Linked DNA regions of Homo sapiens. The protein of the gene in region 1 interacts with the protein of each later gene in a pairwise test. Each region holds a gene or a part of one and is shown on either strand. Other genes may lie near its edges.

The links.
Region 2: the proteins of STOX1 (region 1) and ROR2 interact in binary tests that used the Homo sapiens proteins (3 or more experiments, as listed by UniProt).
Region 3: the proteins of STOX1 (region 1) and POU2F1 interact in binary tests that used the Homo sapiens proteins (3 or more experiments, as listed by UniProt).

Annotation. Positions count from the first base shown.
Region 1 is NC_000010.11:68,830,531-68,834,130, reverse strand, and holds part of STOX1 (storkhead-box protein 1), read right to left. Parts: intron 1-3,600.
Region 2 is NC_000009.12:91,943,525-91,947,350, forward strand, and holds part of ROR2 (tyrosine-protein kinase transmembrane receptor ROR2 isoform 1 precursor), read right to left. Parts: intron 1-3,826. UniProt on the Homo sapiens protein: Tyrosine-protein kinase receptor which may be involved in the early formation of the chondrocytes. It seems to be required for cartilage and growth plate development. Phosphorylates YWHAB, leading to induction of osteogenesis and bone formation.
Region 3 is NC_000001.11:167,223,717-167,227,542, reverse strand, and holds part of POU2F1 (POU domain, class 2, transcription factor 1), read right to left. Parts: intron 1-3,826. UniProt on the Homo sapiens protein: Transcription factor that binds to the octamer motif (5'-ATTTGCAT-3') and activates the promoters of the genes for some small nuclear RNAs (snRNA) and of genes such as those for histone H2B and immunoglobulins.

The DNA.
Region 1 (3,600 bases):
AAGATCCTCCCATCACTTCCCTTTCGCCAACCTGATGTGCCTGATCTTCAGTACCTCCCAAAGCACAAAGAACTCCTGCCTAATTAAAGGCAGAAACTGCAGTACCCAGAGTCACTGTGGGATGGAGAAGATTGTGTGAACCAGCCAGTTTCCAGAACATGGCCTCCCACTCAGCTATCCCCTCTTGAACTAGATGTGGAAAATAAGCCTGACTCTATTTCCCTTGAGCAGAGGCAAATCTGAATGAAAGATGCATTAAAACACAGAAGCGGGCCGGGTGCAATGGCTCACGCCAGTAAGAGAAGAGAGACAGACCCTCTCATATTGTTTTATAATGTTTTATACTCAGAAAAAGAAAGAAAAGCAAAACTAAAGGCAGGTAGCCCGGCGCCTAGGAATCAGACCCGAAACCAGTCCTGGGCCTGCCTGACCTAAGCCTGGTAGTTAAAGACCACCCCGACCTAACTGGTTATGTTATCTACAGATTCCCGACATTGTATGGAAAGGCATTATAAAACTTCCTGGTCTGTTCTGTTTCACTCTGACCACCAGTGCATGCAGCCCCTGTCACGTACCCCCTGCTTGTTCAATTGATCATGACCCTCTCACATGGACCCTCTTAGAGTTGTGAGCCCTTAAAAGGGACAGGAATTGCTCACTCGGGGAGCTCAGCTCTTGAGACAGGAGTCCTGCTGATGCTCCCGGCCAAATAAACCTCTTCCTTCTTTAACTCGGTGTCTGAGGAGTTTTGTCTACGGCTTGTCCTGCTACACCAGTACTTTGGGAGGCTGAGGCGGATGAATCAACTGAGGTCGGGAGTTCCAGACCAGCCTGACTGACATGGAGAAACCCTGTCTCTACTAAAATTACAAAAAAACTTAGCCGGGCGTGCTGGCACGCGCCTATAGTCCCAGCTACTCGGGAGGCTGAGGCAGGAGAATCCCTTGAACCTGGGAAGCAGAGGTTGCAGTGAGCTGAGATCACACCACTGCACTCCAGCCTGGGCGACAGAGTGAGACTCTGTCTCAAAAAAAAAAAAAAAAAAAAAAACCCACAGAAGTGGCTAGGCAAGGTGGCTCATGCCTGTAATCCCAGCACTTTGAGAGGCAGAGGCAGGAGGATTGTTTGAGCCCAGGAGTCTGAGACCAAAATGGATAACATAGCGAGCAAGACCTGCCTCTACTGAAAATTTTTTTTTAATTAGCTAGGCACAGTGGCACGCAACTGTGTTCCCAGCTACACAAGAGGCTGAGGTAGGACGATCATTTGCACCCAGGAGGTCGAAGCTGCAGTGACCCATGATTGTACCACTACATTCCAGCCTGAGTAAGAGAGCAAGACTCTGTCTCAAAACAAAAAACAAAACACAGAGAAACACCTAGAACAGTACCTGGCTCATGAATGAATTCATGAAGCAAGTATTTAAAAAGAGCCACCAGCACTTGGTGCTTTCTTTTTTTTTTTTTTTTAAGACATTTTCCCTCTGTTGCCCAGGCTGGAATGCAGTGGCACAATCTCCACTCACTGCAACCTCTGCCTCCCGGGTTCTCCTGCCTTAGCCTCCCAAGTAGCTGGGATTACAGGCACGTGCCACCATGCCGGGCTAATTTTTCTATTTTTAATAGAGATGGGGTTTCACCACATTGGCCAGGCTGGTCTCAAACTCCTGACCTCATGTGATCCACCTGCCTCAGCCACCCAAAGTGCTGGGATTACAGGCAAGAGCCACCAGGCATGGCCTGGGGCATTTTTATTCAGTGAGAAAAGATGAAAGGCCCTGCTGGGGGTGACAGGGTGGAGACACCCCAGCTATAAATTTCAGAAGGGAACAAACTTGTTTGGCCAAGTGGCCGCCCACCCCCACCGTTAATCTTTCCTGTCCCGTTAGGTGTATTCTCAGAGTAGCAACAGATTCTTCCAAACAAATACAGGTGCCCCACCTCCCTGCAGTACCTCCTTCCCCAGTGGCTCAGCTGGTTAGGCAGCAGTCTCCCTCCAGCTTCCAGAACTCACTCTTTCATTTGTGAAAGCCACTGGCTAATGAAAAACAGAAAACAAAACATTTGAGCCAGGTGCGGTGGCTCACACTGGTAATCACAGCACTTTGGGAGGCCGAGGGGGGAGGATCCCTTGGACCCAGCAGTTAGAGACCAGCCTGGGAATCAGAGCAAGGCCCTGTCTCCACTTAAAAAAAAAAAAAAGAAAAGAAAAGAAAATACAACATTTGAGGACTGGAGCACAAAAACAGAGTTAGCCCCTTGTTAATCAAGCTAAAGATCCAATGTCTCTCTTTTTAGAGAAATACTCTCTGCCTGGGAACTACTTTCCTTACCAGAGGAAAGGTAAGGTAGAGAGAATGAAATCAGAGAGAACTAAGGCAGAAAACTTGGAGAAAACATAAACCTCTGCATGACTTAAGTTCAGGTCTACAACTGGGGCTCCAGTCACTCCAGTCGGCTTGGCTAGGGTGCTCCCTCCTCTTACCTTGTAAGTCCCAGGTCTTATAAGACCCAAGGCAGCACAGTTGGACTTATAAAGCTGACCGCCATCCCTCTCTCCCTGCATTTTCTGCCTGAGCTGGCCAGCAATACTTCCTATACCCTAATGCTTTTATGCAGCAGTAAATTAGCCTTTAAAAAAACATCTAGCCAGGCGCAGTGGCTCATGCCTGTAATCCCAGCAAATGGGAGGCCGAGGCGGGCGGATCACCTGAGTCAGGAGTTCGAAACTAGCATGCCCAACATGGTGAAACCCCATCTCTACTAAAAATACAAAAATTAGCTGGGCATGGTGGCGGGCACCTGTCATCCCAGCTACCGGGATGCTGAGGCAGGAGAATTGCATGAACCCAGAAGGTGAAGGTTGCGGTGAGCTGAGATTGCGCCATTGCACTCCAGCCTGGGCAACAAGGGTGAAACATCGTCTCAAAAATAAATAAATAGATAAATAAATATCTATGGCAAAGAGATCAGATTGACTCTTTTTGTCCTTTTCTAGCATTTTGCTCTTTCCTACAAAATAACAGTGAGAATGGAGCAACAACCTGCAATAGTCCACAGCAGCTCTTTCCCCGCCCTCCTGGAAGTCAGTGCTGCAAGAGGCAAGAGAGCAAGCCGACACAAACTTTCAATTCCTTTTGGGGAAAGCAGCTTCTCCTGCCTTCGCCACCCTCCAGGACTCTAAGGTAGCCCAAGAGCTGCCTCTTCTCTTTTGATATGAACCTAGGGACCCCAAGTTAGACCAGAAATCAGCAATTAGCAACGCTATTCAAAGCAAAAGCATCCCTTTGTCCCCCATGTGTATCCATCACTCAGCATCAAATAAGATCTTTCTCCATTTTGCTCCTCAAAATGTCCTAATGGGTGGCTTTGTCCAAATCCCAGCTAAATGTTCAAATTTGTATCAGGACTCGTTAAAAGCTTCAAAATCTGTCCTTGCCATGGTCAAGGCTTAAAAAAAGGAATAAAAATATTATAAAGAACAAAAATCGTCAGGCGCGGTAGCTCATGTCTGTAATCCCAGCACTTTGGGAGGCTGAGGCAGGCAGTTCACTTGAGGTCAGAAGTTCGAGACCAGTCTGGCCAACATGGTGAAACCCTG
Region 2 (3,826 bases), on another chromosome or scaffold:
CACTATTAACACACTTCTTATCTGTCTAATCTCACAATTCACACAAAGTCATTTCAGAATGGATATACCCACACCACTATGAAAATCAAACCTACTAAGAAGGGTGCCAGTTTTGCTTTCAGGTTGTTGTTTCTCCTGTAGGCTGAGGATACACCGTCAAAGCACTGAGTCCAACATTACGGTTTCTTTTCCCCCATCTGTGTAGTCATGTTACTCATTTGCAACACATTTGCATTTATGTGCTTCTTTGTATTCAATTCTAGTTTCCTGCTATTCTTAGTGATTTATTTTTTGAACTTGTAGAATGTTAGCATGTTCTAAAAGTCAAAAATATACCAAAAAATGAGAATAAACTAATAGAAAGGAAACCACCTCAACATAGTAAAAGCCATATACGACAAGCCCAGCAAACATCACACTCAATGTTAAAAGACTGAAAGCTTTTCCTCCAAGATCAGGAACAAGACAAGAATGCCCATTTTCACCTCTTCTATTCAACACAGTACAGTCATGCGTTGCTCAACGATGACGATACATTCTGGGAAATGTGTCCCTGGGCAATTTCATCATCATATGAACATCATAGAGTGTCCCTCACACAAACTGCACACCTAGGCTATGTGGTGTAGCCTACTTCTCCTAGGCTACAACAAACCTATACAGCATGTGGCTGTACTGAATACTGTAGGCAACTGTAACAGGATGGGAAGCATTTGTGTATCTAACCATATAAAAGGCACAGTCATATACAGTAGTGTTATCTTATGGGACCACTGTCATATAGGTGGTCCATCGTCTGAAAACATCATTATTTGGCCCATGACTGTATTGGAAGTTCCAGGCTGAGCAATTAGGCAAGACCAAAAATAATAAAAGGCATCCAAATTGTAAAGGAAGAAGTAAAATTATGCCTATTTGTAGATGATACGACTTTACATACAGAATAAGAGCTACAAAAATGCTATTTGAGCTAATAAGCAAATTCCACAAGCTTGCAGGTTAGAAAATCAACACACAAAAATGTTACATTTCTGTGCACTAACAGTGGGCAATGTGAAAAGGAAATTTAAAAAACACAATTCCAATTACAACAGCTCGAAAAGAATAAAATACTCAGGAATAGATTTAACTTAAGAGGCAAAAGACTCATACACTAAAAACTAAAAAACATTGCTGAAAGAAATGAAAGGTCTAAATAAATGTTAAGACATCCTGTGTTTATGGACAGGAAGACAATACTGTTAAGATGATGGCCAGTGAGGTGGCTCATGCCTACGATCCCAGGACTGGGGTGGGGGTGGGGAATCCCTTCAGCCCAGGAGTTCAAGACCAGCCTGGGCAACACAAGTGGACCTCCATCTCTACGAAAAAAAATCAAAGAATTAGCCAGGCACGGTAGCGCGTGCCTGTGGTTCCAGCTACTTCAGAGGCTAAGATGGGAGGATAACTTGAGCCCAGGAGGTAGAGGCTTAGCCCAGGAGGTTAAGGCCAGAGGTAGTGAGCCGTGTTTGCACCACTGCACTCCAGCCTGGGTGACAGAGCAAGACCTTAACTCAAAAAAAAAAAAAAAAGTTAATACTACTCAGATCCATCTACCAATTCAATGCAACCTCTACTAAAATCCCAGTGACATTTTTGCATAGCAATTTGTGGCTACTGACACCTGAAATGAAGCCAGTGAAGGGGAGGAAGTGAATCTTTAATTTCTTTTAATTTTAATTAATTTTAACTTATATAGCTGTGTGTGCCTGGTGGCTACTATATTCCACAGCACAAGCCTACAATGAGGAGTTCAGGCCTAAACATTTCCTTATTTTAACTGCCCATTGTGTTAACTATCCCTCCAGGAGGGTGTGGAAACCATTAGGCTAGGAGTATTTGGGATTTAGGGGAACCCTCCCCCACTCCAGGAGGACTTGAAGCAGCCGCCACATTCTCCTCTGATAACATCTAGAAAGTGACAGAGTGCTTACTGAAGCTCATTCCAGCGACAATTAAAGACATACACACCACTTCCCACTAGAACTTAAGGATTTCTAGAGGACCAAGCTACTTAGTCGAATTAAGCTACATTTTTCTGTAATTATTTCCTTCCCTTTAGCTTTTGAGTTTTTTGCTTTTTTCAGAGATAGGACTTAAAAAGAAAACACCCACAGAAATCCCAAAAACAGTGCCAACCACACCAATAAAATTCCCTATTTTGTAAAAGCTTTATGAAAATTCCCAACACTGTTCAACAATTCTTTGGCCACTCTACGAATATGATTTTAAACAGATTACACCCCAGACATATTTTATGACAACTGCACACGCAAGCAAAGCTGTCCCGCCCTCGTTTCCAACTTGGCAAGCTCTTCAACAAAACCAAATAAATACATGCTAGAAAAAGGCGGCTGCTACAAAACCCCGGCCAGTTGCAGCTATAATTAATGGGCTGGAGCGCCTCTTGTTGCTTGGATTTTTACTTTCAAAACTCAAGAAGCCCACACTACCCACTGAAAGCCTCAACAGTGTTATGGTGGTGTTGTGGGGCAAAGCAGAACCTAAGAGCCCAAAGGGTCACTGAGAAGTAATGTTTTCAAAGCCAGTCCCTTCAACCCAACAGTCCCTTCATGAAATTGCTATTGGCCATGCAGCTGGGGTGCAACCAATAAAAATCCAGACCTAGCTAGCAATGCTTCCACTGCAAAACAAAGCCCCCTGGTTTCTTTACTTTGAAACCTTACATGCTTGGTATTCTCCACTTGGTGGTCACCACGGGGCTCCCAAAAAGGAAATATCCTAATGACAATGTATGGAGTCACAACCAATGGGCAAGAGCAAGGAAGAGCCCGCCCCGAGGAGCCCCCAAGGAGGCACCTCAAGGTAAACCCAAAATTGGGCTGCCCAGCCCTTCACCACGTGGAAACCACAAGACGCTGATGGGGTGTGGAAGAGGAGGAGGAGGGAGTCCTTCACAGTGTCCCCTCCAGGTTCCCAGGGAATGAACCAGATAAACACCAAAAGGAAAGGCCTGTCATCAAGGAACCATTTTAGAAGATGGTTATAAACCCTGGGAAGGAGTAACAGTTTGTAGCGTTAACTTTCTTTTCCCTGACTACAATGTGGAATTATATAATTAGAACTCTCCAAGGGAAAGGATTACAAAGAGTACACAAATTTCCAGCACTACAACAGACTAGCCAGGTCCTGCAGATTAGGGAGCTCAAGTCCTTCACATCCAGTTCCCATTTCACTAATAACTTTTCCCATCCTGGCCTCTCAGGGAATGCATTTTAAAGGAGTGCCAGTCCACCAGCTGAAACCTTTCTAAAGGGGATTAATCTTCCCTACCTGTCAGATGAGCTGTTCGTACCCCTGTATTTCTATTCCACTGATTTCAGAAGAGCTTCCAAAGAAAAGAGCAGTGTAAAATTCAGACTCTGCCAGACTTAATCTCTTGGAGGTTAAATCCAGGCTAACTGTTTAAGGGGCAACAAGTGATTCACTGCAAACCACACTTAAGAGAGAGACATACAAACACCAATTACAGCAGCACTTTGAATAAACAATAAAAAAAAGGTTTCACAATAAAAATAAAAATGTTGTTTAACATTGCCTTAAAAATCTGCAGAGCAGTCACCAAAAACTACCCCTGGAAAACGCACATTTTAAAAAACCCATGTTGCTTTTTTACATATAAAATATAAAGCAGACTTGTCAGTTTTCCATGATTTGCTTTACTAATTAAAAGTTCAGCTTGGCTTTCCAGAGCCCTCTCAGTTACACTGAGTGTCACATAGGGTCCACGGCGATCAGATTTTCAGGGTGACATGCTTTATGAAGT
Region 3 (3,826 bases), on another chromosome or scaffold:
CTAAAACAAGAAAACACCTAAGTCACTTTTCCATATAAAAATATATTCCCTTTAAGGTATCAGTGCAACTCCATTAAGGTAATCATATGTTTAAGCACAAATGAGTCGTTTAACACACAGCATATTGTTCATTTTCCAGCCATTCCTGTTTATATCTTCTATTGCAAAGAGAAAGTTCAACAGAGGGGGGGAAACCTGCCATAATAATTATTATTATTGATTTAATTTCATATACCATTTCTATATTCCAACATAAAAAGCATAAAGTTACAAAGAATTATGAAATAAATAATGTGATAAACTGCACTTGCTATGACTTTCAATATTGAAGACTTAGTAAAGCTACTACAAACACTTAGCTTTGTGGAATGTGAACATTGGCTGTTAAAAAAAAGTTAGTATAATGTATCCTCTCCGGATAAATGTCCAGGAGTTCCAGCAGTTTAAAAGAAATCTGGGCCAGGTGTGGTAGCTCATGCCTGTAGTCCCAGCACTTGGGGAGGCCACAGTAGGACTGCTTAAGCCCAGGAGTTTTAGACTAGCCTAGGCAACATAGCAAGACCCCATCTCTTAAAAAAAATTAAAAATAAGAGAAAATAAATGAATAAAAGATAATCTGATAAATCTAGAGGTTTGCTGATTCTTCTTTTGCTCAATTACTAGTCCTGTCAGCAAATGTAGGCAACACTGAAATCTTGAGTGCTTGCTTAATTGGAAATAAATAAATAAATAAATAAAACCCAAAAACAAAAGAGCTCTATTAGTCACTGAGTATACAAAGATACCAATGCTCAAAAAATTCACACCCCATAGTAAAAACACACAGAACCCCATAACCACATGCACTGTATGCAAGGAGCATCTTCAAATCAGAACTTCTGAAACTCAAGACAATTCTCATATTCCAAATTCTAAACATACTGTAAACGGATCAAGTAAGTCAGGCAATAGCTCTACTCAGGCTATTTTTGTTTCCATTGTTATTACTGCTGAAACAGTTTATAAGAGCTCATCACCTGTTTAGAACACAGAAATACTTCGGTACAAAACAAACCAATTTATTCCTAAGAAGAATTAAAATCTACAGTTATTCAATTCTCTTTACTTATGAAATGTCAATAATGCACAAAAATGTCCAGCGAAAGATGCATAAGGAAACTGCTATTCTCTGTGAACCTTAATTATTATCCCTTTCAACCACTCAAAAGGATATTTACATCCTTTAAGCAACACAGTAAGAAGTAAGCAAAATGGTGACTCAAAGTTACCCCAAAAAAAGGAAAAGGAAAAAATTCATGCAGAAAGGGTACAGAAATTCAAAGCAGATATGTCACTGAATCAAATCAACAACTTTCAACTCTAACGCCCAAGAAATAGTAAGTACATTTGCTCAGGCATTTAGCATTTAAGGAGGGATCAGAAACAAGAACATGGATAACCAAAAGGGGGCATGTTTTGTTTGTGACTTGGTCTGTTCCCTAAACGCAAATTACCTGAATAGTTCTAAATTCAAATGCAATCACTTTCATTAGGAAAAACACATTCCTGCTTAAAATCAGGCTTCATAGCAAGTCTTTACTAATCACAAAAACTGTGTAATTAACACAATTATATAAAGGCAAATTAATGAGTCACACAACATTATTTTTAATGGTGCTTGAAAGACTAATATGCAAAGATTACAACTATGGGGTTTCAAAATTAAAAAACAAAACAAAAATAACCGATAACAACAAGGCAATCACTACTACATAATATTACAGTCTTCCAAGTACAAAGGAAACATTCATGAAAATGAGTGACCAACTTAAAAAACACAAATAAATTCAAGATGAAGCAATACAGATTCAAGAAGCAGGTCAAATATTTCAATTTTTAATAGAAAATACTTAAAGATAACATTCAAATTTCCACTTCTGTTATTTCAGAACCACCTGCCTAAGATATTCAAGGGTCTATTAAACATCTTTGGTGGCTTGAGAAGAGCAACGTAACATTTTGAGCCCTGAACTTATTGCAAAATCCACTAACCAGATGAATGGCAGATTGACAATTACTTCAAACTAGGCAGCAATGAAACATATTTTATTTACACTGCTTTATACTACCTATTGATGTAGAGAATAGTAAATTTAAAATATGGCAGAACACTACACCTGAATTCATTTGAACCTGAATAATAGCTACGGTTTGTTTTTTCCTTGTCTACTGGGATTTTTGACAATGACAAAATGAAAGGAATTACAAACTAATTTGAGGGAAGAGGTTAAAAATTGCTTTTACGGTAATGGTTTGGAAGCAGAACAGTCCTTTAGAAATCAAAAACAGTTGGTCAGCTGTCACATGAATTTTCAAGACCTTGATTCAAAAGTATCATTGTAATTAATAGGTGGGAGAGTTAAGAAAGTGACAACGGGCTGGGCATGGTGGCTCACGCCTGTAATCCAGCACTTTGGAAAGCCGAGGCGGGTGGATCCCTTGAGGTCAGGAGTTCGAGACCAGCCTGGCCAACACGGTGAAACCCCGCCTCTACAAAAAATACAAAAATTAGCCGGGCGTCATGGCGCATGCCTGTAGTCCCAGCTACTAAGGAGGCTGAGGCAGGAGAATCACTGGAACCCACGAGGCAGAGGTTGCAGTGAGCCGAGATCGCACCAACGCACTCCAGCCTGGGAGACAGAGCAAGACTCTGTCTGGAAAAAAAAAAAAAAAAAAAAGAAGACAGTGACAATGGATTTCCTAGAAATACGCAGGAAACTACTTGACAGATGCAAAAGGAGACAGGCAGGTTATAAACTCATGTGGGTTCAAAAGTAACCTAAAATACTCTATCAAAATTGGATCACAAATTCAGGTTAGAAATAAAGCAATTTTATCACATTCTCAGGGAATTTTAATCATCACCTTAAAATAAACTAATAATTAAAAATATGAGAAATGTCTTACAAGAAAATCTATTAATATGTCAAAAATTCTAAGTGCAATCACTGTTGCAATGGAACAATTTTAAAATCACTAATCAAAACAAAATGAACAAACTTGTCCAGACTAAGATAAATCCAAAAAGAATTCTGAATTTTTTTTAAAAAATCTGTTTTAAAAGCACATGCTTTCCTGTGAGTATTCTACCTTATTTTCAACATTATCATTTCCACCTTAAAGAATACACAGCCCTCATTCTCAACTCTGCTTTATTCACTGAAATGGATTCTAAGGCAAATGGTCTCTCCATTAGCCTAAGCCATGCTCTGATTAAGAAACACAGTTTCTTATAAAAGTCTGGGGGATCACAACAAACATTTATATGGGTCACTTCTATGACTATCTATCTAAAACCCAAATACTCCATTTGAGAATTTTGAGGAAATGAATTTTTACAATAGCATTAAAAGTGAACCAAAATATAAGGCCAGTTAACAACATCCATCCTTTTCTGTATTACAAAAACTGTAACAGCGAAATTTTGCTTGTAAAATCCAATGTACATTTTATCATTTTGTATAAAATATCTACGGCCTCAGTAGTGATTAAATTGCAGCTATAAAGGAAATTGACCCGAAATAAATGGTTTCCCTATGAGAAGGCTTCACTGCTACACTTCACCTCAGGACAATAAATCAAATTAACTGCACCTTGTCCTCTGTCCAATGACATCATCAGTTTGACCACATCTTGGGAATCGGGTGCAAAAACATATGCTATTTAAGGCATGAAATTATATTGCTGCTTTTTGTCCATCTGACCTCATACTTCAGGTCTCTGAAGCAGTCATTCACCTGAAGGTTCTCTTAAAAGCTACAGATTTTTTTTTTTCCTGCTGCATTCA